4 linked regions of the Homo sapiens genome follow. The protein of the gene in region 1 interacts with the protein of each later gene in a pairwise test. Each region holds a gene or a part of one and is shown in the gene's direction. Other genes may lie near its edges. The genes, in order: PEX1, ANXA8, MYL11 and MSH5.

What was found.
Region 2: the proteins of PEX1 (region 1) and ANXA8 interact in binary tests that used the Homo sapiens proteins (3 or more experiments, as listed by UniProt).
Region 3: the proteins of PEX1 (region 1) and MYL11 interact in binary tests that used the Homo sapiens proteins (3 or more experiments, as listed by UniProt).
Region 4: the proteins of PEX1 (region 1) and MSH5 interact in binary tests that used the Homo sapiens proteins (3 or more experiments, as listed by UniProt).

The regions. Positions count from the first base shown.
Region 1 is NC_000007.14:92,486,525-92,490,552, reverse strand, and holds the end of PEX1 (peroxisomal ATPase PEX1), read left to right. Parts: intron 1-641; coding exon 642-839; intron 840-1,129; coding exon 1,130-1,260; intron 1,261-3,011; coding exon 3,012-3,096; 3' UTR 3,097-3,528; downstream 3,529-4,028. UniProt on the Homo sapiens protein: Component of the PEX1-PEX6 AAA ATPase complex, a protein dislocase complex that mediates the ATP-dependent extraction of the PEX5 receptor from peroxisomal membranes, an essential step for PEX5 recycling.
Region 2 is NC_000010.11:47,481,089-47,487,975, reverse strand, and holds the start of ANXA8 (annexin A8), read left to right. Parts: upstream 1-3,860; 5' UTR 3,861-3,955; coding exon of another isoform or gene 3,956-4,042; coding exon 4,043-4,063; intron 4,064-6,887. Other genes in the region: protein FAM25G, read left to right, coding at 568-701. UniProt on the Homo sapiens protein: This protein is an anticoagulant protein that acts as an indirect inhibitor of the thromboplastin-specific complex, which is involved in the blood coagulation cascade.
Region 3 is NC_000016.10:30,369,826-30,377,812, forward strand, and holds the start of MYL11 (myosin regulatory light chain 11), read left to right. Parts: upstream 1-4,976; 5' UTR 4,977-5,032; coding exon 5,033-5,035; intron 5,036-5,994; coding exon 5,995-6,087; intron 6,088-6,319; coding exon 6,320-6,395; intron 6,396-6,597; coding exon 6,598-6,702; intron 6,703-6,794; coding exon 6,795-6,873; intron 6,874-7,828; coding exon 7,829-7,877; intron 7,878-7,970; coding exon 7,971-7,987. Other genes in the region: TBC1D10B (TBC1 domain family member 10B), read right to left, coding at 1-358. UniProt on the Homo sapiens protein: Myosin regulatory subunit that plays an essential role to maintain muscle integrity during early development. Plays a role in muscle contraction.
Region 4 is NC_000006.12:31,749,975-31,757,006, forward strand, and holds part of MSH5 (mutS protein homolog 5), read left to right. Parts: intron 1-3,326; coding exon 3,327-3,465; intron 3,466-3,592; coding exon 3,593-3,655; intron 3,656-7,032.

The DNA.
Region 1 (4,028 bases):
GGTGATTCTTCCACCTCAGCCTCCTGAGTAGCTGGGACTACAGGCACATGCCACCATGCCCAGCTAATTTTTGTATGTTTTGTAGAGACGAGGTTTCACCATATTGCCCAGGCTGGTCTCAAACTCCTGGGCTCAAGCTATCTGCGTGCCTTGACCTCCCAAAGTGCTAGGATTACAGGTGTGAGCCACTATGCCTAGCCTAACTCAGACTTTAAAAATATAAAAGCAATTCATTTTTATTCCCAAGAACAGTAAGGTGGTGGTTTAATTTTAGTCTTTAATTCTGTTTTTAATTTATTCTATTTAGAAATGTCCCAGAAACTTAGTATAACTTTACTTTCTGAAAATGAAGAAACCTGTCCTTGGGCATTAGTGTGTTGGATTTAAGCAACAAAGTTAAAAAAACCTACCCTGTGTTATGGCAATTTTCACTTGATGGTGGTTCTATAACACAGGTATCAGTGAACCTTTATAAAAGATGAACAACTTTTCAGCTTGCTTAATTTCAGTTAATTAACATGTATACTTATCTATGTTAATGTTTTATTGCTTAAAATGTTTAATTTTTATATTTGGTAAACACATAGTTTTTTCTCTCCCCCTCTTCCTTCCATCTTTCATTACTACAATTTACCATGCAGAGCTCACAATGTCTCTCTGCACCAAGCTCCATGACTCAGGATTTGCCTGGAGTTCCTGGGAAAGACCAGTTGTTTTCACAGCCTCCAGTGTTAAGGACAGCTTCACAAGAGGGTTGCCAAGAACTTACACAAGAACAAAGAGATCAACTGAGGGCAGATATCAGTATTATCAAAGGCAGATACCGGAGCCAAAGTGGAGTATGGCTTTTTCCCCCTCATTATAATTGTTAAAACTTCTTAAAAATTGTTTCACCCTTTTGATATATATTTCTTTGACTTATAAACGAGCTATATTTATAAACAAGGGACCAGAACACATTAACTCAGTCATGGTTATGTGCTTCCTTGCTTTCAATGTTTCATTATCTTATAAGGAAGAGAACGTATGGTCTCTTGAAAAAACTGACAATAAGAAGTAACAACTGGACTACCACATTTTTTTTTACATCCTTAATTTAACTCTTCGTCAATTTCTTTTTTTACTTAAGGAGGACGAATCCATGAACCAACCAGGACCAATCAAAACCAGACTGGCTATTAGTCAGTCACATTTAATGACTGCACTTGGTCACACAAGACCATCCATTAGTGAAGATGACTGGAAGAATTTTGCTGAGCTGTAAGTAACAGATTCTGTTTTGGAAGTACAGCTACTATTACAAGTGACATAGTATTACACTTAAACCTTTAAAGTTCGTGTTTAAAATAAAAATATTTTGAATATTTAAAAGCTAATTCAAAAAATATGTGTCGTAGCTATGCATTAAAAAACCCCAAAATGTCAGAAGTACAGAAGTCAAAATTGAGTTTTCATTAACCAGTTCATTTGATTATATTTGAATTATTCATAATGGACTCATTTAATTTTAGTAACTTTGGGCTGGGTGCTGTGGCTCATGCCTGTAATCCCAGCTCTTTGGGAGGCCAAGGCAGGTGGATCACCTGAGGTCAGGAGTTCGAGGCAAGCCTAACCAACACGGGGAAACCCCATCTCTACTAAAAATACAAAAATTAGCCAGGTGTGGTGGCATGTGCCTGTAGTCCCAGCTACTTGGGAGGCTGAGACAGGAGAATTGCTTGAACCCAGGAGGTGGAGGTTGCAGTGAGCCGAGATTGCACCACTGCACTCCATCCAGCCTGGGCCACAGAGCGAGACTGTGTCTCAAAAAAAAAAAAAAAAAATTTAGTAACTTCGAAGAAATAAGAAGGAAAATTAAAAGTTGAAAGTGATTCTAATGTATAGTTTATAAAATTTTGTTATAAAAATACCTGTTTTGCCTTCAAAATAATTTATATTAATATTTTATTGACCTCAAGAACATTTAAATACATTCAGATTTATTCATTTGTGGACCACATTTGTTATACATTGGATTTAAAGGATCCTTGCAATTGAGTTTATGGCCACCTATGCATCTGAGACCCATGGACTGGGAACCATTCTAGGTCAATGATTCAGTGTGATTCAATTTAAGAGATGTTTATTCCTGGTCTTTAGAAGCTGCTACCTTTTGTTATCTAATTTTGCAGTACTTTGAAGTATGTATGTATGTGTACATACGTTAGTGCTATGTATTTATTAAAGAAGAATCAGAAAACAGAGGTAAGGAAAAATAAGGAAACAAATTTCTGTTAAGCCCACCACCTCCCAAAGCATATTTGTTTATATGCTTATATATGTTTTCCTATTATGGTAAGAACAGTCTGTACATATTGCTATATAGCAGTCCCCCTTTATCCACATACATCCTGAAAATTGTTTTACATTTTAAATGTTAACTACTTTATTGTTTTTAAATGTCATTTTATAGTGTAGCTATGCCACAATATCCAATTTTTAGACATTTAAATTGCTCCCAGGCAATGTGGTAATGAACATTCTTGCAGCTGAATATATGCACATATCTAATTGTTTCACTAGGATAGAGGTGGAATTGTATAACAGGGAGCTCACATTTTTTAAGGCTTTTGAAATGTATTGCCAAATTGCCTGCCAGATATACTGCACCATCACTAACATTGTGTGTTGCAGTATTTTTCTAAACTTGGCCCTTTTGATTTTAGAAAAATGATATCAATAATTTACATTTCTTTGATTAAAGTGTAGAAGTTATAATTTTTCATATTATTCATTGTCATTTGTATTTTATCTTTTCTAACTTGTCTCTTCATCCCCTTTGCTCCGTTTTCTATTGGAGTGCAACTTTATTTGTAAGAATTCTTTTTAATTTCTGTGACTGGAATTTTTTTTTCTAGTTTGTTATTTCCCGTTCATTTCTTAAAATATAATTGTGTTTGCCAACAATCCATTATCTTTTGTTTTGTAATGGTAGTATTTATACATATTAAATTATCTCTTTCTTTTTTCAGATATGAAAGCTTTCAAAATCCAAAGAGGAGAAAAAATCAAAGTGGAACAATGTTTCGACCTGGACAGAAAGTAACTTTAGCATAAAATATACTTCTTTTTGATTTGGTTCTGTTAAGTTTTTTGATGGCTTTTCCATATGTTGTAACAGGAAAAAAATGGTGTCTATGAATTTCTTCTTAATTTAACAAATTTGGTTAATTTATAAAATCACAGATTGGTAAATGCTATAATTATGTAATGATCAGGATTGAGATTAATACTGTAGTATAAATTGGGACATTATAACAGATTCCATATTTTATTTCCTAAAATCTAAATTCAGTCTTTAATGAAATAATATTAGCCAAATGGTGGAACTAATTTATTTCTTTTGAGGAAAAGATAATAAAGAATGTAATTAAATTTAAATTTCTTGGAATTCCCAGTTGTATATTCATCACCTTTGTAGCATTTGACAAATTTTATGCTTAGCAGCTTCTTCACTGTTTTGAAATAAAATATCCTATTACCTACTGATACAATTATCTGTTCTTTGTATATCAAAAAATGTGAAATTTACACATAATTCAAATACATTTAATTATCCGCTCAACCAGAAATGAAATCACATCCCTCTACTATACTACATCCAGCTCCAAGCCCAAGATATTTAAATGACATCCATTCCTCTCCTAGTTCCAGTTATGATTTTATCTTGATATTCTCTCATATATGAACTAAATTATAAAGTTAGCCACCATCAATACAATCTGCGTATCTAATATCTTAACTATATAGTAATGGGGTAAGGGAACAGCAAAAAGGAGAACATTAATTAAAATATACAAGTAAGCCTGGGCAACATAGTGAGACCCCATCTCTTAAAAAAAAAATTAGCCATGCATGATGGTATGCCTCTAGTCCCAGCTACTTGGGAGGCTGAGGTAGGAGGATCACTTGCTCCCAGGAGGTTCAAGGTTCTAAACCAGCAAAGCTCAGAATCCCAGGGGATAGAAACAAAGACTTAGTGGATCACT
Region 2 (6,887 bases), on another chromosome or scaffold:
AAGACTGAGGATTTCAGCATATGAGTTTTGAGGGGGAAGACATCGTAAACATTTAGACATAGTAATAACATCAGAGACTTTGGCCTAATCTTGGAGAGGGGAGAATCTTTAGAACTATGACAAAAAAATCAGCGCCATAAAGGAAATATTAAGTAAATTTGACAATCCAAAACTGAAATTTTCTATAGCCAAAAAAAAAAACACTATAAACCAAGCCAAAAGAAAAATTATACACTGATGAAAAATATTTGTCATAAAAATGATAATCCAATATAACAACCCAATATAAAAATGGTCAAAAGACATAAGCAGGCATTTTCCAGAAAAAAGGATAAGCAGGCAATGTACCCATGAGTAGATGCTCAGTCTCACTCACAGTTGAAGAAATGCAAGTTGTTGGGGAAATTAAAACCAAATTCAAATTCATTCTGCAGTAATCCTGCTGCCCTTGGTCCCATCGGGCCACTCCAGAGACTAATCCATTAAGATGGCCACATCCCACAGGCCACTCAAGGGGACACAAGTTCAGCAGGTGGATCACTAGGACATTCTTCCTCTTTCCAACAGCCATTGCTGAAGCCATAAAGAAAGCCCAGGAGTCAGGGGACAAAAAGATGAAGGAAATCACCGAGACAGTGACCAACACAGTCACAAATGCCATCACCCATGCAGCAGAAAGTCTGGACAAACTTGGACAGTGAGTGCACCTGCTACCACGGCCCTTCCCCAGTCTCAATAAAAAGCCATGACATGTGTACATTGAGCGCTGGATTTATTCCCATTTGGATGGAAACACTAGGCAAAGTATTTTCTTGTTGACATAACATATTTTACATATTTATGGTGTACACTTAAGTATTTATTACATGCACAGAATAGTGATCAATCAGGGTGTTTGGGGTGTCTATCACCTTGAATATTTGGTATTACTATGTGTTGGGTACATTTCAAGTCCCTTCTTCTAGCTACTTTGTTTTTTTGTTTTTGTTTTTGTTTTTGTTTTGAGATAGAGTCTTGCTCTGTCGCCCAGGCTGGAGGGCAATGGTGTGATCTCGGCTCACTGCAACCTCTGCCTCCCAGGTTCAAGCAATTCTCCTGCCTCAGCCTCCCAAGTAGCTTGGACTACAAGCGCAGGCCACCATCTCTGGCTAATTTTTATTATTATTATTTTTTATTGTTTTTATTTTTAGTAGAGATGGGGTTTCACCATGTTAGCCAGGCTGGTCTCAAACTCCTGACCTCAGGTGATCTGCCTGCCTGGGCCTCCCAAAATGCTGGGATTATAGGCATGGGATACTGTACCTAGCCTTCTAGCTACTTTGAAATATACAATACATTGCTGCTAACTATAGTCACCCTAGGTGAAGTATTTTTCAACAGAAACACTTTGCATGTCCCCCGTGTCTCCTCTGCTGAGGTGGACACTGGCACTGGGGCCCCTGCTGCTGGTTGGATAGGTCCTCATGATGAAACAGATGCTTCTCTGTCATGCTAAGTAAGATCTTTCATGTCAGGAAGGGGCTCTTCTGGAAGAATAGTTAGTGTCTGTGCTTCATTTCCTAAAAAACTGTTTCACCAGAAACTATATACAACTTTCAGGTGCCTCAGTGCTTCAAGACATGCTAAGGGAGGACCCTCATTTGTCTTGCATGTTTTTGGGATTTTTCTTGAGATGTTCTTGCAGGACTCAGGGCAGATAACAGACCAGCTTGATGAAGAATTTAGCAAGGAAGGCCCCCACTGAGCTGCTTCCTGTTCTCGCAGAGATCAGATAAGCATTTCTGCTGGACGGTTACAGAATCTGGTCAAGGAGAGACTGAGTCACTGCTCATCATCCTAGAAGCTGCTGTTGATTTTTTTTTTTTTTAAAGACGGAGTTTCACTCTGTTGCCCAGGCAGGAGTGCAGTGGCATGTTCTTGGCTCACTGTAACCTCTGCCTCCTGGGTTCAAACAATTCTCCTGCCTCAGCCTCCCCAGTAGCTGGGACTACAGGTGCCCGCCACCACTCCTGGCTAATTTTTTGTATTTTTAGTAGAGACGGGGTTTCACCATGTTAGCCAGGATGGTCTCGATCTCCTGACCTCATGATCCACCTGTCTTGGCCTCCCAAAGTGCTGGGATTACAGGCGTGAGCCACCGCACCTGGCCCAGAATATTTATTTAGAGACTGATGTCAGGCCTAAGTGTTGATAGTGGGTAGTAGTGGGCAAGATGCCTGGCCCTCTCTCCTTCTCATGAGCAAGTCAGTATCATAGAGGTTAAACATATCTTTAAGTAGCATTTAACTTAACATTTTTTAATTAAAAAAAAGAGAAGTAATTTGTAAAAATATTGCATCCCCTATTTCTCTTGCTGGAAGCTATTTGTTCTTAGCAGAAATGAGAAAAAAAGGTGTTTTGCTTAAAAAATAAGTGAGTTGCTCACCATACTTCTGGATCTCATCTAGAATTGGACTCACAGTTTGTGAACAGCCCAGGTATAGCCAATGTCTTAGCTTTGGAACGCTTGCCACTTTCCAGCTACAGCTGAACCTTATATCCTGGTTTGGTTCCTGATGACTTTCAAATTCTCCTGACCCAAACGCAAGCTCAGAAGCACAAGCACATTGTTGGTGGCAGTACAGACTGAAACACCCTCTTTGGATGGCAGTTCCTCTCACAGGACTTTATTCTCCAGGTATGCACAGGCACACACAGGTGCCCAAAGGATAAACACACAGATCTATTGTAGCATATTTGTATTACTGAGAGATTAGAAACATCCTAAAATGTTAACCAAATCGCTTGGATGAAAAGTTTTGCTCTGCTTATTAGGTTTGGCGTACAATATGGAGGTGACATCTGTTACTTCCAGTGTATTATAGATACTTTAGCTCCAAAAATGATACCTGTACCTAGATGGGCACCAAAAGGGAATGGTTAACAAATATTGCATATACAGGGGTATGGGGCAGCTCCGGGGCTGGGGATGGCGGCGGCCAGGTTTGCAGCGGCTCCAGGATGAGCGGGTGGATCCCGGGAAGCGTGGTGAAATGGGCTGGCTCCCGAGCCAGCCGGGAGGACGCTTACTACAGCTGCTCAGAAGCACCACTGGAAGCTCAGATGTAGGTGCCCCAGCCAGAAGCAGAGAGGGGTTCAGAGAAGCTACAGAGAAGCCCCTCCTGATGCCCCAGGGAGCAAGCCAACTCCTTCCAGGCTCCAGGAACACCACAAAGCAATATGAAACCTGTTCATGAGAGGAACCAGGAATGCCTTCCACCAAAGAAACGAGACCTCCCCATGACCAGCTGCTCCACTAACCACACATCCTCCAGTGATGCCTCTGAATGGTCCCGAGGGGTTGTGGTGGCCGGGCAGAGCCAGGCAGGAGCCAGAGTCAGCCTGGGGGGTGATGGAGCTGAGGCCATCACCGGTCTGACAGTGGACCAGTATGGCATGCTGTATAAGGTGGCTGTGCCGCCTGCCACCTTCTCACCAACTGGCCTCCCATCTGTGGTGAATATGAGCCCCTTGCCCCCGGAAAAAAAAAATAATATTGCATATGCAGTTGATTAAATGGCATACTCCATGGCTATTAGGAGTGATGAAAATGGGCTGGGTGCGGTGGCTCATGCCTGTAATCCCAGCACTTTGGTAGGCCAAGGTGGGCAGATCACCTGAGGTCGGGAGTTTGAGACCAGCCTAATCAACATGGAGCTGTGTTTACTGAGTGGGGCTTTCGCAGGCTGGAGCTAAGAATTTCCAGTATGCGTAACAGCCACAGCCCAAATATCTGCCAGTGAGTTGTGTAATTCCCCAGAGCAGGCCTGGGCAGTGTCTGGGTGGGGCCTGGGAGCCACAGGAGATGCCCAAAGCCAGGCAGAGCCCGGGGGCGAGGGGACGGCAGGCAGGTGTGGCGCTGCCCTGGGCGGGCTTGCACCCCCACACCCAAGTGAGCGGCCTGCTCACTCCTCAGCTGCAGGAGCCAGACGTGTGGAGTCCCAGCAGAGGCCAACCTGTGTCTCTTCATCTCCCTGGGAAAGGTGCCCCCGAGGTGAAAGAGATGGCCTGGTGGAAATCCTGGGTAAGTGGGAGCTGGCAGGAGATTTGGGTTCCTGCATGGTGTTGGGTGCTGGTCACCAGGGAGTCCTGAGAAATGTAAAGTCGCCCTTGGCTGGGAGTGGCTCAGTCTACATTTGGCTGCCTCCTGGGCCAAGCATGGAGGGTGGGAAGGGGCCGAGAAGAAACAGTCCCAGGCCTAGAGTGCCCACGGCAGGGATGGGACCTGGGCCGGGAGACAGGCTGATGAAGAAATCTAGAAATGCAAGGGGGAAGCTGAGGTTTGAGAAGAGTCCAGGGGAGGGACCCTTGCAGGGGTGGGGCCACTCAAAGGAGGGGGTATCATGGTTGAGCCTTGTGTGTAAATGTGTATGGGGTGCACACACGTGTGCATTTGGGGAGAATCAGGCATACTGCTCCTGGCAGAGGGAACTGTGTGCAGAGGGTCAGAGGGCAGGGAGCTTGGCTTCGAGGGAAGCTGCTCAGCACAGCTCAAGGGTCCTGGTACCGGAGGAGATGGACCTGGGGAAGCAGGCAGGGCCAGGTCCTGAAAGGCCTTGCCTGGCAGGCTGAGGAGTTAGGCTTTACCTTAAGAGAAGTGGGAAGGCACTGAAGGGCTTTGAGCATGAGAGTAACCTGAACCTGCTGTTGGGGACCCATCAATGCCTTCACCTCAGGGATCAATGATGTTCATTTGTCAAGACTGGAGAGGGAAGAGGGGAAGCAGGAGGACCTGGCCTGCTAGAGCCTGGAGGAACCCGGGGCTCAGGGCAGCCCATCCCCAGCAGAACTGATGGGTTCTCGGGAGCTTTCCATCTATGGTTGAGCCTGAGGCCATCGCTGTGCTAAGGAGTTGAATATCCAGAAGGGGACAGAGGTGACATCTCCCGGCTGCCGGCTCTGCACACCCTTTTCCTTTCCTCCCAGGCAGCCTCAGGATGTCAGGGCTGCACTTTCTGTTTTGCAGATGATGAAATGAAGGCTCAGAGACACTGAGTGACTTGCTAGGGTCCAATGGCCAGCAGGCTCCAGTCAGAGAGCAGTTGGGTCTCTCTGCCCAGCCCCAGGTTCTCTGTGAGCTTTTGTGGGATACCCAGGCTTGTCCAGCTTCAGGGAGTCTCTGGATCATAGATGTCGCAACCCAAGCAAGTGTCCTCAGGGTCAGACATGCTAGGTTCTGGACAGGTGGGACAAAGAGGAAGCCAGGCTGAGGTGGGGCAGCTGTCCTGGCCCCCAGGGAAGCAGCCTTCTTCCAGGACAAGGGGCCATGGAGGCCTGCAGCTTCAACCAGACTGCTGGGAACCTGCCTTTGAGGAGGTGGACATGGCAGGGAGAGCCCAGTGCTGGGTGGTTTCCAAAGTCAGTTGCTGGCCAAGGCAGTCTGGCACTGGGCCTTGCACCCAGTGCAGCAGGACAAAGGGCTGTCCATGTAGGGACCTGCCAAATTGACAGGATCACTGTGACACTCACTGAGTCCCTACTCTGTGGCCGGACCCTTCTCTAAGCACCTCACATTCAATATCTCCCTTGAACCTCACAAGGAGTCTATGAAGTAGACACCAGTATCCTTATCCACAGATGAGGAAACTGAGGCACAAGTAGGCTAGGCAGGTGCCCGAACTCACTAGTAAGTGTGAGAGTCTAGGTGAGAATCTGAACAGCCTGACTCCAGGGCCAAAACCATACCCTGGTCGTCCATACCCCATGTGAGAGCTGGCTAGGGGTAGCAAGTTCACAGGTAGACCCCACCTGCAACAGCTGAGCTGCTAGCGAAGACCCAGTGTCCTCTAGGCACAAAGCTGGGCCAGGAACGCGATGGGAGGAGATGAGGGAGCCACTGGAGAGAGATCTGTCTGCAGGCAGGGTCCATCTGCACCTCTCTTTTTGGTGTTGCCTTTTCCTCTGTGTCTCTCATAGAGACAAACCCATCTCCCAGGCCTCTGGGCAGCCACGTAGCAGGGGAAGGCCAAGGCGTGGCAGCTCCCCTGTGCCTGTCACAGAACAAGTTATATTAATAGATGTAGTCACAGGCTGGTCTGAGTCACCTTTTCAGTGAAAATGTGCCTGTCTGGACTAGCACGGCCCTGGGCAAGACCCTGCAGGAGCCTGAGGCTGACCCTTCCTTCTCAGCAGGAGGTCTGGAGCTCCAGGACTCCACACTGATAGCCAGGGCTCCGATTCCCAGAACACTTATTTTCTAAAACCTTAGAGTGGGAAGTGAGACAGAGGCTTCTCAATGCAGCAAAATCAGAACCAGCCAGGGAGCTGCTTACAAATGCTGCACCTGAGACCTACCGCACCCCTGCGGGACTGCATGCTCCTCAGGGATGCGGTTACACAGCCTGGCCACTCGCTGGTGCACCACAGCCCCCGAGTGCTGGGGCAGAGGGAAGCCGGCAGGCACTGAGAGCTGAGATGCCTCCCACATTCCCAGATGACCTGCGTTCCTGTGGGTGAAGCTTCCTTCAGTGGAACGTTCCAGGAACACTCATTGTCTGGGAAAGGTGGAGTCATCAGTAGGGCAGGGGAGGTAGATAGAGCTCAGCTTCTGAGTCAGGCTGGGGAGTCCCAACAGCATCACTTACTAGCTGTGTAAGGGAGTCCAGCTCCCTTTCTGTAAAGTGAGGCATCAGTACTTACCTAGCACAACTGTTGAGGAAGCCATGACATAAGCATTGCTTCTAAAGCACCTGGCCCAGGTCTGGCACACACAAGGGGCTTGAAGTGCTAACAGGAGTAATAGCAGAGCGTGACTCCACAAGCAAGGGATATCGTGTGTGTGGACACCGATGAGCAATATCTGGGACCACACTGGCTCTCTCTGGATGGAATTTCCATAGGAATTATTT
Region 3 (7,987 bases), on another chromosome or scaffold:
CTCCAGCCACTGCCGCGGGCTCTGGGGATTCCGGGCCGGAGGGGAGCTGCGGCTTTGGGGCTTCGGGCGAGGCCTCCAGGGTCAGCACCACCACCGTGCTGCCCGTGACAGCCGGGGCTGGGGCCGGGGCTGGGGCCGGGGCCGGAGCAGAGGTCTCGGCCGACCCCGGGACCCAGGCGGGCCGCGCCTCCCCGGGGGCCACCAGGGTGACGGGGGCCGAAGTGGCCGTAGTCACTGGAGGTCCCGGAGCCACCACCACGACGGGCCCGGCCCGGGAACCCCGGGGCGGCGGCGAGGGGGCCGCGGGGGCGCCATGACGGCGCGGCGGGGCCACCAGGGGCGCCGTGCCCGTCTCCATGGCCGCGGGCCGCCCCTCACATCCCCCCGCCGGGGAGGCCGCAGAAGGCGCCGCCCCTCGGGCCTCCCGGCGAGGCCAGCCGAGAAAGGGGAGAGGGCGAAGGGCGCGGCTCGGCGCGCGCCGGGGGCGGAGCGGCCGCTGGGCGCGCAGAGGCGGGGCAGGGGTCGGGGGGCGCCGCGCGCCGGGGTCTCTCTCGAGCCCTCTCACCCCCTCGCGCGCTCTCGCCACCGCCCCCTCCCTCCTGCTTGGGGGCGAGCCGCCGACCTCGCGCCTGCGCACACGCCGCAGAGCCGGCTCCGCGCCAGCGTCTCGGCGTTCCACGCCTGCGCGCGGACTGGCTCATCGCGCTCCTTTTTTCTCCCGCCTAGTCAGAGGATTTGGACGAATAGTGGGAGAGAGAGAACTGGGCTTCTGCCAATCGTTGGAATCGTGGGCGGGGCTGGAGGCGAAAAAGGGGTGGGTCATCTGGAAAGAGGAAACGGAGAAAGCTAGGGCTGTAAGACCAATCAGAGGACGAGGAAAGGCAGGGGGCGATGGGACGAAAGAAATAACCAATAGAAACGCAGGGGTCTGAACCTCCTGGCCAATGAATATGACTGAAGGGTGAATGACCGCGGAAGGGCGGAGGAGGAGGCAGGGCTGTGCGAGTAAGAGGTGGGGCCTGGAGGCTTCTTAACCAATAGGAATGGTAAAAAGGGAGCCAATGAAAAGGGGAGCAGGTGGAGGTCAAATTGACAGGCAGTGATGTCTATTTAGGCGGTGACAGACAGCATCCGCAGTCAATAGGAAGAGCTGAAGAATTCTTTAGGTCTCCCAAAATGGTCAGTAAGGAATGACAGCTGGGAGGAGGCGGGGCAAGCTAGAGATTAATTCGCCCCGTCAGCCAATGATCGTGTTCTCCCACTTTGGCCACAGGACAGGAAAATAGATAGCTGTCTCAGCCAATGGGAGCATCCAAAGGGCAAAGATGCTGCCAGCAGGCGGTGCCAGCCCAGGGATAGTCGGTGACAACCGGAGACAAGCCTTATGGGAGGGTGACAGCTGGGGACAGCACGGAGAAGGGGCGGGGGCATTAGTGCAGCCCTCAACCAATGAGTGCCGCGCTGCCCCCTCTCGAGTCCTTTCCGGTCCCCTATTCTTCGTTCAGCTCCTGAGCCCCACACTCTGGTGGTCTGTGGGACCCTGAGCCCCACCACAGATCCAGTGCCCTGACCCAGTACTCTCATCCTTTACTCTATAATTCTCCGATCTCGGCCCCCAACTAACCCCAACACTCCAGGCCCAGGTGGCAATAGCCAGAGCCCCCAGATCCTATAAGCAACCCATATCTCTGCTTCACCCATTTCCTGCGGGAATCCCAACCTCCAAGTCCCTCTCCTCAGTTCCCATCTATCTGAGCTCCTCCCCAGAACCCAGGCTCCAGTTCCTCAGACCTTATCCCTCTGAGTACCCCCTCCATTTCTTCTAGTGGGGATCTCAAACCCCAAATCCATGAATCCCTAATACCATGAACTCCCCATATGTGTGTTACTATTCTTTTGGGGATCCAAGGCCCCAGTCCCGTCAACCCCTCTCCCCTCACTGCCACATCCCTCTGTGCTCCTCATGTTCCACTGAGAATCCCGACCTCAATCTCATGAGCGCTCCAGGTTGTCCTTAGATCACAAGCATAAAGACCTGACGTTATGAGCTCCAACCTTCCAACTTCTAAACGCCCTCTTCTTTCTCTGACCCCCATATTCTGATTTCCATATAGCATCCACCATCCTGGAATTCCAGTGAGACCTAGCTCCCGACTTCTCAGCTCCTCCTTGGTTTCTGAGTCCTCTAAGGTCCCTCACTCCCAACTCAGCCCCATGTCCTGTCAATTCCCACTCAGTGTCTGATCTCCTTCTCCTCACCTTTCCCATCTCCCGTTTGACCCAAGCTTCCTGAGCTCTCCTCCCATTCCCCTTTTTGGAGTCCTCCTCCTCTCCCAGAACCCAGTAATAAGTGGGCTCCTCCCTGGCCTGGACCCCCGTGGTAACCCTATAAGGCGAGGCAGCTGCTGTCTGAGGCAGGGAGGGGCTGGTGTGGGAGGCTAAGGGCAGCTGCTAAGTTTAGGGTGGCTCCTTCTCTCTTCTTAGAGACAACAGGTGGCTGGGGCCTCAGTGCCCAGAAAAGAAAATGTCTTAGAGGTATCGGCATGGGCCTGGAGGAGGGGGGACAGGGCAGGGGGAGGCATCTTCCTCAGGACATCGGGTCCTAGAGGGAGCGGGAGGAGAAGGAGATGGTTGTCCTTGCCAACTTGGGGCTTCCTCAGCCACTATTTTTCCAGACTTCTGCTGCATGGAGGGGACTGGGTCACTGAGGCCCAGAGGGAGAAGAGAGGGTACATCAAAGTCACACAATCAGCCAAGCTGGCTCTTGGCCAGAATAAAGTGAGCTGCCACTGGCTATCAAGGCACCTCACAGAAAGTGACCAGCTGGCTGTCCTTTTAGGGTCTTTTCCTCCCCTCTTGAGTTCCAGCCTCCACACCAGTACCCAGAGAAAATATTCTAGACTCATACTAGATCACATCCTTCTTCTGCATGAAACCTTTCCAAGGTTCCCCAGGGTCTCCGTCCTGTGCCTGGCAAAGGCCCCTCAGGGGCTGGTCACCAGCCCCATCACAATTCTGGCCACCTGAACACTTCTGATCTTCCGCTCTCCAGGCCTTTGCTCAGGCCATGCCCTCCGCCCAGCACATCTGCTCCTCCACCTGCACCTGACTCCCTGGCCCTCGTGAAGCCACTCCCATACTCCTAGACAGGGCTGCTGCGCCCTCCACTTCTGGGCTCCTGACCAGCTCTGGTATGTCAGTTTCTGCATTCATTCCTGTCTCTATTAGTTATAAGGCAAGTTCTGTGGGATGGGAACTACATCTCCCTTTTACAGAGGGGAAACCAAGGCCCAGCACAAAACCTGAGACCACAAAGCATCTTGCCTCAAAAAATCCCTCTTGGCTCGGCGCGGTGGCTCATGCCTGTAATCCCAGCACTTTGAGCACTTTGGGAGGTCGAGACGGGTGGATCATCTGAAGTCGGAATTCAAGACCAGCCTGGCCAACATGGTGAAACGCCATCTCTACTAAAAATACAAAAAATTAGATGCCGGGCACGGTGGCTCACGCCTGTAATCCCAGCACTTTGGGAGGCCGAGGCAGGCAGATCACAAGGTCAGGAGATCGAGATCATCCTGGCTAACGCGGGGAAACCCCGTCTCTACTAAAAATACAAAAAAATTAGGCGGGCGTGGTGACACGCGCCTGTAGTCCCAGCTACTCGGGAGGCTGAAGCAGGAGAATCACTTGAACCCGGGAGGCGGAGGTTACAGTGAGCCAAGATCACGCCACTGCACTCCAGCCCGGATAACAAAACGAGACTTCATCTCAAAAAAAAAAAAAAAAAGTAGCTGGGCATGGTGGCGGGTGCCTGGAATCCCAGCTACTCAGGAGGCTGAGGCAGAAGTATCGCTTGAACCCAGAAGGCGGAGGTTGCAGTAAGCCGAGATCGCACCATTGCACTCCCACCTGGGTGACAAGAGCAAGACTCCATCTCAAAAAAAAAAAAAAAGAAAGAAAAGAAAAAAAAATTCCCCTCTCCTTGAAGGGAGGTAGGAGACCCACCTGATCCCTCAGCTTCCACAGATGGCTCTTTCTCACCACCCTCACACTTACACACACTTGACTATGAACTCCACCATGTGGGGGTGGAGGGATTGTGTCTGCCAAAGTACATCCACAAAGCCCAGCCTAGCACGTGGCACACTGTGTGTGTTCAATACATGTTTACTGGGTTTATTTTATTAATTTAAAATAGAGACGGGGGCCAGGCGCAGTGGCTCACACCTGTAATCCCAGCACTTTGGGAGGCCTAGGTGGATGGATCACCAGGTCAGAAGATTGAGACCACTCTGGCCGACACGGTGAAACCCTGTCTCTACTAAAAATACAGAAAAAAAAAATTAGCCTGGCTTCGTGGCACACCTATAATCCCAGCTACTCGGGAGGCCAAGATAGGAGAATCACTTGAACAGGGGAGGTGGAGGTTGCAGTGAACCGAGATCACACTACTGGCACTCTAGCCTGGGAGACAGAGCGAGACTGTCTAAAAAAAAAAAAAAGGGAGACAGGGGTCTCACTATGTTGCCCAGGCTGGTCCTGAACTCCTGGCCTCAAGCAATCCTCCTGCCTCAGCTTCCCAAAGTGCTGGGATTACAGGTGTGAACCACTGCACCCAGACGTTTACTGGGTTTAAATCTGAGCCCACCCCACTCAGGGGTACAGGATCTGGTTCATTTATCTCCCAGAATGATGCCTTGGGTTGCGTCCCCTCTAAACTCTGGCACATTCCAGCCCCTCTTTGGGAGAAAGAACATCTCTTCTTGCCCAGGCCCTAGTGAGACATGCATCGCAAGACATGCTCCCCCCTTCCTCCCCGCTGGGCTCCAGCTGCTGCCAGCCCTCCAAGAAAGGAGAGGCCCTGAGTTGGGCTATTTTGGTATCTGGGGTGGGCACCCGCAGGGCTAAGGTTACCTTGGTATGTTAAGGGCTCCCTGGGGCAGGACTATATAACCCCAGAGGGACTGCCCCATGCTGACTCCTTGCTTCTTTCCAGCCGGAGCCGCTGCCTTGCCCCCCGGAGACTGAAGACATGGTGAGTGAGAATCCTCCAACCCCTGCCCAGATCCCTTAGACCTCAGGGCAGCCTCACCCTTTGAAAGAAAGTAGCTGGTTCCCAGTCCAACAAAAAGTTAAAAGGATGCTCATCTCTTTCTCGGCATCACTGATGGAAAACAGACTGTGTGATGGCCTAAAGGATCCAATCAATGATAATCCGCCCAGACATTCAACTCACAGGGGCCCAGTCCCTCTCAAAGCCTGATCCATTCATTCCTGTACTCCATCTTCCTAAGGCCCTCTGGCACCAGCCAGGCAATAACTCCCATCCCATTTTACAAATGAGAAAGTAGAGGCTCAGGCCAGGTGCTGTGGTTCACGCCTGTAATCCCAGCACTTTGGGAGGCCAAGGTGGTTGGATCACTTGAAGCCAGGAGTTCGAGACCAGCCTGGCCAACAGGCGAAACCCCGTCTCTACTAAAAATACAAAAATTAACTGGGCGTGGTGGTGCATGCCTGTAATCCCAGCTACTACGGAGGCTGGGGCATAAGAATCGCTTGAACCCGGGAGGCAGAGGTTGCGGTAAGCCGAGATCGCAGCACCGCACTCCAGCCTGGGTGACAGAGCAAGACTCTGTCTCAAAAAAAAAAAAAAAAAGAAAAGAAAAGTAGAGGCTCAAACAGGGCAAATGAGTGGCTGGGGTCACACAGCAAGTCTGAGGCTCAGAGGAGCTAGGCTCAGGACACTGAGAAGATAAGGAAGCTTCCACCCATTGTGGGGGATGGAGAGTTGGAGACCCAGGAGCCACAGACGGGAATTTGGGGAATGCAATCAAAGCAAGCCCCCTCAGCAAAGAGGTCCCAAGGAAGGGGAGACTCAGGCCAAAGGGCTGCTTTAGGAACAGGGACTCGAAGAATTCTGACTCTTAATCCATTGCCCCCAGAGAGGTGGAGGGACTGGTCCATGGGCCCCTTTGTTCAACCCTCACCCTCCAGGCACCCAAGAGGGCCAAGAGAAGGACAGTAGAGGGCGGAAGCTCCAGCGTCTTCTCCATGTTCGACCAGACTCAGATCCAGGAGTTCAAAGAGGTGGGTGAGGGGACGGGGAAACTGGAAGGCTGACCAAAAGCAGCCCTGCTGGCCCTCTCCCTGGAATGTGCACCTGCTTGAAGGAGGGGAAAGGTTTAGAATTCCTTCCTCCCCTCTCTGCTTGGGGTGGAAGAGGACAGTTGGCTGAGAGCCAGCATCTGATCCTCCTGGGGTAGGGATGCTGAGGCTGGGCCATGGGGGACCTAACCCTCCCCACCACGGCCCTCCCCAGGCCTTCACTGTGATCGACCAGAACCGTGATGGTATTATAGACAAGGAGGACCTTCGGGACACCTTCGCAGCCATGGGTGAGCCCCCTACCCCCAGGTGGGAATATTCAAGGCTGCAGAGTCTAGGAAATTCAGTGGCCTTGGGTTCCAGCCCTGTCAGCTCCACCTTGGGCCTCAGTCTACCCAGCTGAAAAATGAATGGGATCAGCTGAATTAGTGGGAAGCGCAGGCCCGGCCCCAGGAGCCTGCTCCAGCCCATGCTTCCCCCAACCCCCTCCAGGCCGCCTCAATGTGAAGAATGAGGAGTTGGATGCCATGATGAAGGAAGCCAGCGGTCCCATCAACTTCACCGTCTTCCTGACCATGTTCGGGGAGAAGCTCAAGGGTGAGTGGAGTGTCCTGGGTCCAAGGCCCCGGCTGCCTTTTCCCAGACCCTTCAGGGACCCATCAGCTTCATGTGCCCTCTGACCCCCACAGGTGCCGACCCTGAGGATGTGATCACCGGAGCCTTCAAGGTCTTGGACCCTGAGGGAAAGGGCACCATCAAGAAGAAGTTGTAAGCATCGGCTCCCCCACCCTTCCGACCCTTCCCCCACTCCACCAGCTGCTCCCACACTGACAGCCTCCTTAAATTTCTACCAAGGCTGGGCCCTGTGGCTCAGGCCTATAATCCCAGTGCTTTGGGAGGCAGAGGCAGGAGGATTTACTTGAGGACAGGAGTTTGAGATCAGCCTGGATAACACAGCATGACCCTGTTTCTAAAAACTTAACTAAAAAATTCGTGGGCTGGCCGGGCACAGTGGCTCATGCCTGTAATCCCAGCACTTTGGGAGGCCAAGGCGGGCGGATCATGTGAGGTCAGGAGTCCAAGAACAGCCTGGCCAACACGGTGAAACCCCGTCTCTACTAAAAATACAAAAATTAGCTGGGCGTGGTGGCGGGCGCCTGTAGTCCCAGCTACTAGGGAGACTGGGACATGAGAATCGCTTGAACCCTGGAGTCGGAGGTTGCAGTGAGCCAAGATCACGCCACTGCCCTCCAACCTGGGCGACAATAGCAAAACTCCGTCTCCAAAAAAAAGAAAAAAAAAAATTCGCGGGAGTGGTGGCAAACACCTATAGTCCCAGCTACTCCGGAGGCTGAGGCAGGAAGATCCCTTGAGCCCAAGAGTTCCAGGTTGCAGTGAGCCGTGATCAAACCACTGCATTCCAGCCTGGGCGACAGGGTGAGACCCTGTCTCAAAACAAACAAAAACCCAAAAATTCCTACGAAGGGTTAGGCACTGCCAGAGGTAAGGGAGTAGTTAAGATTGTGGTAATGGGCGGTAAGATTGCATTTTCACAGCAAATGTGGGCGGAGAGGGCAAAAGCGAGTGTCTGGGAGGCCAATGAAGGAAGTAGAGTGACCTGGGTTTTCAGGGGAGGCTGGGGCTGGCATCGGGGATGAGGTGCGAGGGAGTGGAAAGGAACCAGGAACCCAATCGCAACTCCCCTTGTGTCACCTCTCTCCAGCCTGGAGGAGCTGCTGACCACGCAGTGTGACCGCTTCTCCCAGGAGGAGGTGAGTGGGGACCGGGGCGGGGCCGGAGCAGCAAAGGGGCTGGGGCCGGGGAGACTAAGGGCCTGTGCGAGACGCCCCTACGTCTTTCCCCAGATCAAGAACATGTGGGC
Region 4 (7,032 bases), on another chromosome or scaffold:
CTCCAGGAATCGGCAGGGTAATTTAATTACCCACACATTCTTCAGTGCTTCAGGTGCAGATCTTTAATCTCAGCCACAGATGGGAGGGAGAGAATTCTCAGTGGAGAAGAGAGCTGGATTTAAGGTCGGGGAGGAATGCGTATTCCCCAAATGGAATCAGACAGGGCATGAGATCATATAACTTGAAGAATCATCATATAATCTAATGAACTAAGGACAGGTGACATATTTATTAATATTTCTGTATACGAATTTATTTTAATTTATTAGGAAATACCTCTAACGTACAAAAAGATGTAAATAATAATATAGGGCCAGATGTGGTGGCTCACGCCTATAATCCCAGCATTTGGGAGGCTGAGGCAGGAGGATTGCTTGAGGCCAGGAGTTCAAGAACTAAAAGCTGTACAGGCACCAAGAATATGACTGAATGTCACAGTATGCTCTAAAGGGCACTGTCCTAGGAGTCTGGAGACATGATTTTGAGACTTAGCTGTTCTCATTGGCGGTATGACTTTGGGCAAGTTGCTTATCTTTTAACGGTTTCATTTTCTCAGTTGTTAAATTTACAGTTTGGTTTAACTAAAGTCTCTCCCAGTACGAGCAGGGCGTGAGTCAGAGATACCTAAGTGTTTAGTGCAGCGCATGTGCTTTCTAAAGTGGGGATGGCTATTTACAGACTGGCCTACACTGTTCTGGTGGGAGCCCTCAGTGACCAAGGAGCAGAGGTACCTGAAACCCACCCTTGAAGCCATCTGGATGCTCCGCTTCATTCAAATCTGGGGTGTTCTAACCCAAAGTAACTGGCCACAGACTGCAATGTAAGATACAAATCTTCAGGACCTAGTGTGTGCACATGTTGGCTCTTATATAAGATGGCATCCTTAGTACTTGTTCTATGTAGAAAAGAATTTGTGGGCTCACAAGTCCCTACAGAGTCTCACACTCTCATGGCCAATAAGTATACAGGGATACCCGGAATTAGACAAACACAGATGAGACATTTATTTCTGTATATGAATTTATTTTATTTATTTATTTATTTTTTGAGACAGAGTCTCACTCTGTCACCCATCCTGGAGTGCAGTGGCCTGGCTCATTGCAAGCTCCACCTCCCGGGTTTACACCATTCTGCCTCACCCTCCCGAGTAGCTGGGACTATAGGTGCCCGCCAACACGCCCGGCTAATTTTGTTGTGTTTTTAGTAGAGACGGGGTTTCACCGCGTTAGCCAGGATGGTCTTGATCTCCTGACCTCGTGACCCGCCCTCCTTGGCCTGCCAAAGTGCTGGGATTACAGGCGTGAGCCACCGCACCTGGCCTGAATTTATTTTCATTTATTAGGAAATACCTCCAACACACAAAAAGATGTAAATAATTAGCCGGGCGTGGTGGCTCATGACTGTAATCCCAGCACTTTGGGAGGCCGAGGCAGGTGGAACACCAGAGGTCCGGAGTTTGAGACCAGGCTGGCCAACATGGTGAAACCTCATCTCTACTAAAAATACAAAAATTAGCCGGGAGTGGTGGTGCACCCCTGTAATCCCAGCTACTCCAGAGGCTGAGACACGAGAATCGCTTGAACCTGGGAGGCGGAGGTTGCAGTGAGCTGAGATCGCACCACTGCACTCCAGCCTGGACAACAGAGCAAGACTCTGTCTCAGAAAAAAAAAAAAAGATGTAAATAATAATACTATCGGGCCAGGTGCAGTGGCTTATGCTTGTAATCCCAGCACTTTGGGAGGCCATGGCAGGAGGACTGCTTGAGGCCAGGAGCTTGAGAACAGCCTGGGCAACATAGCAAGACCTCGTCTCTATAAAAACTATTAATAGTAATACAAATGGCCAGGCGCAGTAGCTCATGCCTGTAATTCCAGCACTTTAGGAGGCTGAGGCAGGCAGATCACCTGAGGTCACGATTTTGAGACCAGCCTGGCCAACACAGCGAAACCCTATCTCTACTAAAAATACAAAATTTAGCTGGGCATGGTGGCACACACCTGTAGTTCCAGCTGCTGGGGAGGCTGAGGCAGGAGAATCACTTAAGCCTGTGAGGCAGAGGTTGCAGTGACCCGAGATCCCGCCACTGTACCCTAGCCTGGGCGACAGAGCAAGACTCCATCTCAAAAATAATAATAATAATACAAATATCTATATATCCATCAGCCAATTTAAGAATAAGACATGCCGGGCGCGGTGGCTCATGCCTGTAATCCCAGCACTTTGGGAGGCCGAGGCGGGTGGATCACAAGGTCAGGAGTTCAAGACCAGCCTGGCCAAGATGGTGAAACCCCGTCTCTACTAAAAATACAAAAATTAGCTGAGCACAGTGGCGGGTGCCTGTAATTCCAGAACCTGGGAGGTGGAGGTTGCAGTAAGCCAAGATTGTGCTACTGCACTCTAGCCTGGGCGACAGAGCAAGACTCTATATAAAAAATAAAATAAAAAAAAAGAATAAGACACTATTGGCCGGGTATGGTGACTCACGCCTGTAATCCCAGCACTTTGGGAGCCGAGGCGGGCAGATCACGAGGTCAAGAGATCGAGATCATTCTGGCCAACATAGTGAAACCCTGACTCTACTAAAAATACAACAATTAGCTGGGCATGGTGGCGCATACCTGCAGTCCCAGCTACTCGGGAGGCTGAGGCACGAAAATCACTTGAACCCGGGAGGTGGAGGTTGCAGTGAGCCGAGATCGCATCACTGCACTCCAGCCTGGCGACAAAGCGAGACTCTGTCTCAAAAAAAAAAAAAAAACGAAAGAATAAGACGTTGTTGAAGCCCCTTAAATGTCCCTCCCCAATCCTTTTTTCTCTGCAGTGTTGACCATTATTATGAATTAAAGCTTATCATCCCTAATGGGACAGTTATGTTTTCACAGGAAGAATATGAAAAGATGAATGTCTGTTGCTGTTACCCAGAGACACTTTCACAGCTAAAAAGACATACAAACTCATACTGACTCACCGTCTCTTACTCAGCCTCAGAGTGAGCTGCAGTGTTGGCACACAAATACCTCAACACACTGCTCTCCTTCTAAAATATTGACAAGCTCCGTTACTTATATACATGGAATGACACACGGTCTTATCCGTTGAAACTGTGATATGTAGACACAATTATGCTCACATCTAGCAATTTTCAGTAGATACATGTAAACACACCTGAATGGGTAGGACACTGCACTTGCCACTACATTCCCATAGCACATCGTGGATACATATTGCCACAATCCCCAGGGACTGCAAGCACACTTTTTGGCAAACTGAGATCAAGATGATAGATGTAACTTGTAGTACCCCCACCCAAACCCTCACTTCCAGGCTATGGTTCACACGTCCGACTCATGACCTGGGGGAGCTCAGTTCTCGTCTGGACGTCATTCAGTTTTTTCTGCTGCCCCAGAATCTGGACATGGCTCAGATGCTGCATCGGCTCCTGGGTCACATCAAGAACGTGCCTGTGAGCCCAGGGTGGAGGGCAGGGAGGTGGGGAAGGAGGTTGAGGGCTGATACTGGGCAGTGGGCTTCTTGAGGGGCATTAGAGTGAGGGAAGAGAAAACAGCGGCTGTAACCTTGTCTGACTGTAGCTGATTCTGAAACGCATGAAGTTGTCCCACACCAAGGTCAGCGACTGGCAGGTTCTCTACAAGGTAAGGCCTTCCTTCTTGAATCCCAAAAGTCCAGGTAAAGGCCCTCAGCCTGTATTCCAGACTGTCTGTACCCTAGACATGCTGTCCAATTTTATTCTACCCTCTTTTTTTTTTTTTTGGAGACAGCCTCGCTCTGTCGCCCAGGCTGAAGTGCCATGGGGCGATCTTGGCTCACTGCAACCTCCGCCTCCTGGGTTCAAGCAATTCTGCCTCAGCCTCCCGAGAAGTTGGGATTACAAGCGCCCGCCACCATGCCTGGCAAATTTTTGTATTTTTAGTAGAGACAGGATTTCACCATGTTGGCCAGGCTGGTCTTGAACTCCTGACTTCAGGTGATCCACCTGCCTCAGCCTCCCAAGGTGCTGGGATTACAGGTGTGAACCACCAGGCCCGGCCTCCCTCTTTTTTTTTTTAACTTTGTATTCAGGAAAATGTAAAAAATATTTAGAATAATATAATTAACCCCCATGTACCCACCATGCAGTTTCAACACTTTAACTTACGCCAATTTTTTTTTATTTCTTTTTCTTTTTTTTTTTAGACAGAGTCTTGCTCTGTCGCCCAGGCTGGATTGCAGTGGTGCGATCTCGGCTCACTGCAACCTCTGCCTCCCAAGTTCAAGTGATTCTCCTACCTCAGCCTCCCAAATAGCTGGGATTACAGGTGCCCACCACCACACTGGAGTGATTTTTGTATTTTTAGTAGAGATGGGATTTCACCATGTTGGCCAGGCTGGTCTCAAATTCCTGGCCTCAAGTGATCTGCCCATCTCGGCCTCCCAAAGTGCTAGGATTATAGGTGGGAGCCACCGTGCCCAGCCTAGTATGTGTCATCTATATCTTTTTCTACTTTCCCCTCTTGGATTATTTTGTGGGTTTTGTTGTCGTTTGTTTGTTTTTTTAAATAAGGTCCTGCTTTGTCACCCATACTAGAGCAGAGTGGTGCAGTCATATTTCATTGCAGCCTCTAACTTCTGGGCTCAAGCAATCCTCCCACCTTAGCCTCCAGAGTAACTGGGACTATAAGCCTGAGATGCTGCACCTGGCTTTCTTGGATTATTTTGAAGCAAGTCCCAGCCATTATATCATTTCATCCATAAATATTTCAGTGTAATTTCTTTTTTCTTTTTTTTTTTTTTTTTGAGATGGAGTCTCACTCTGTCACCAGGCTGGAGTGCAGTGGCATGATCTCGGCTCACTGCAACCTCCGCCTCCCAGGTTCAAGCGATTCTCCTGCCTCAGCCTCCCATGTAGCTGGGATAACAGGCACATGCCACCATGCCCAAGTTTTTTTTTTGTATTTTTAGTAGAGACAGGGTTTCACCATGTTGGCCAGGATGGTCTTGATCTCCTGACCTCGTGATCCACCCGCCTCGGCCTCCCAGAGTGCTGGGATTACAGGCGTGAGCCACCTCACCCGGCCAATATTTCAGGGTAATTTCTAAAAGAAAATTATTTTTTAAAAAGAATAACAGTATTGTTATCTTACTTTAAAAATTGTATTATTTGGTATCATCAAATATCTGAAATTTTTCTTTTTTGAGACAGGGTCTCACTCTGTCACCCAGGCTTGAGTGCAATGGCACAATTGTAGCTCACTGCAGCCTCAAACTGTTGGGCTCAAGCGATCCTCCCCCCTCAGCCTCCTGAGTAGCAGGGACCACAGGTGATGGCCATCACACCGAACTAAGTTTTTATTTTTTGCTTGCATTTATTTATTTATTTATTTATTTATTTATTTATTTATTTTTGAGACGGGATTTTGCTCTTGTAGCCCAGGCTGGAGTGCAATGGTGTGATCTCGGCTCACCGCAACCTCCACCTCCTGGGTTCAAGTGATTCTCTTGCCTCAGCCTCCCAAGTAGCTGGGATTACAGGTGCGTGCCACCACGCCCAGCTAATTTTGTATTTTTAGTAGAGACAGGGTTTCTCCCTGTTGGTCGGGCTGGTCTCGAACTCCCGACCTCAGATGATCTGCCTGCCCCGGCCTCCCAAAGTGCTGGGATTACAGGCGTGAGCCATTGCACCTGACCAATTTTTTATTTTTTGTAGAGACAGGATCTCACTATGTTGCTCAAGGTGGTCTCAAACTCCTGAGCTCAAGTGATCCTCCTGCTTGGGCCTCCCAAAGTGCTGAGACTATTGGTGTGAGCCACGATGCCCAGTCAGATGATGGCCCTAGTCCTTTTTAATCTACCGGTTCCTTCTCTATCTTTTCTCTCTTGTTCTTTCTTTCTTTTTCTCTTTTTCTTCTCCTGGCAATTTGTTGAAGAAACTAGATTATTATTTGTCTTATAGTGTTTTCCATTAGCCTGGATTTTGCTGTTTGCATTTCCTAGATGTTTTTGGCACATTTCTCTCTCTTCTATAGTTTCTGTAAATTAATATTTAGTTCTAGAAGCATGATTAGGTTCAGAGTTTTTTTTTTTTCAATACTGTTTTAGAAGTAGAGGAACATAATGTCTGATATGTCCGATTGTCTCTCTTTTTCTGATGTTGGCAAATGTTCTGATGTTTAATACCTAAATCTATTATTCATTTATTTATTTATTTATTTAGTTTGAGGTGAGTCTCCCTCTGTCGCCAGGCTGAAGTGCAGTGGCACGATCTTGGCTCACTGCAACCTCCGCCTCCTGAGTTCAAGTGATTCTCCTGCCTCAGCCTCCTGAGTAGCTGGGACTTACAGGCGCACACCACCACGCCCAGCTAATTTTTGTATTTTTAGTAGAGACGGGATTTCACCATGTTGGCCAGGATGGTCTTGATCTCTTGACCTCAGGTGATCCACCCGCCTCAGCCTCCCAAAGTGCTGGGATTACAGGCGTGAACCACTACACCCAGCCATCTATTAATTCTTTAGCAATTACAAAGTAGTAGCATTTAAATCTCTGATTCTTTCTTCATTTATTAGCCAGAAATTTCTGTAAAGAGAAACTTCCTTTTATGTACTATTTGGTTGCCAAGTGATAGAAATCATATAGAAATACAGAAAATTGCTTGATATTTCCCCCACTCTTTTTTTTTTGAGACAGAGTCTTGCTCTGTCACCAGGCTGGAGTGCAGTGGCACAATCTTGGCTCACTGCAACCTCCACCTCCCGGGTTGGGTTTCAAGTGATTCTCCTGCCTCAGCCTCCCGAGTAGCTGGGACTATAGGCGTGTGCCACCATGCCTGGCTAATTTTTGTATTTTTAGTAGAGACAGGGTTTCACCATGATGGCCAGGATGGTCTTGATCTCTTGACCTCGTGATCCACCCGCCTCGGCCTCCCAAAGTGCTGGGATTACAGGTGTGAGCCACCATGCCCAGCCCTTTTTTTTTTCCCCAATATGGAACGCTTCTTGAATTTGTGTCATCCGTGCCCAGTGGCCGTGCTAAT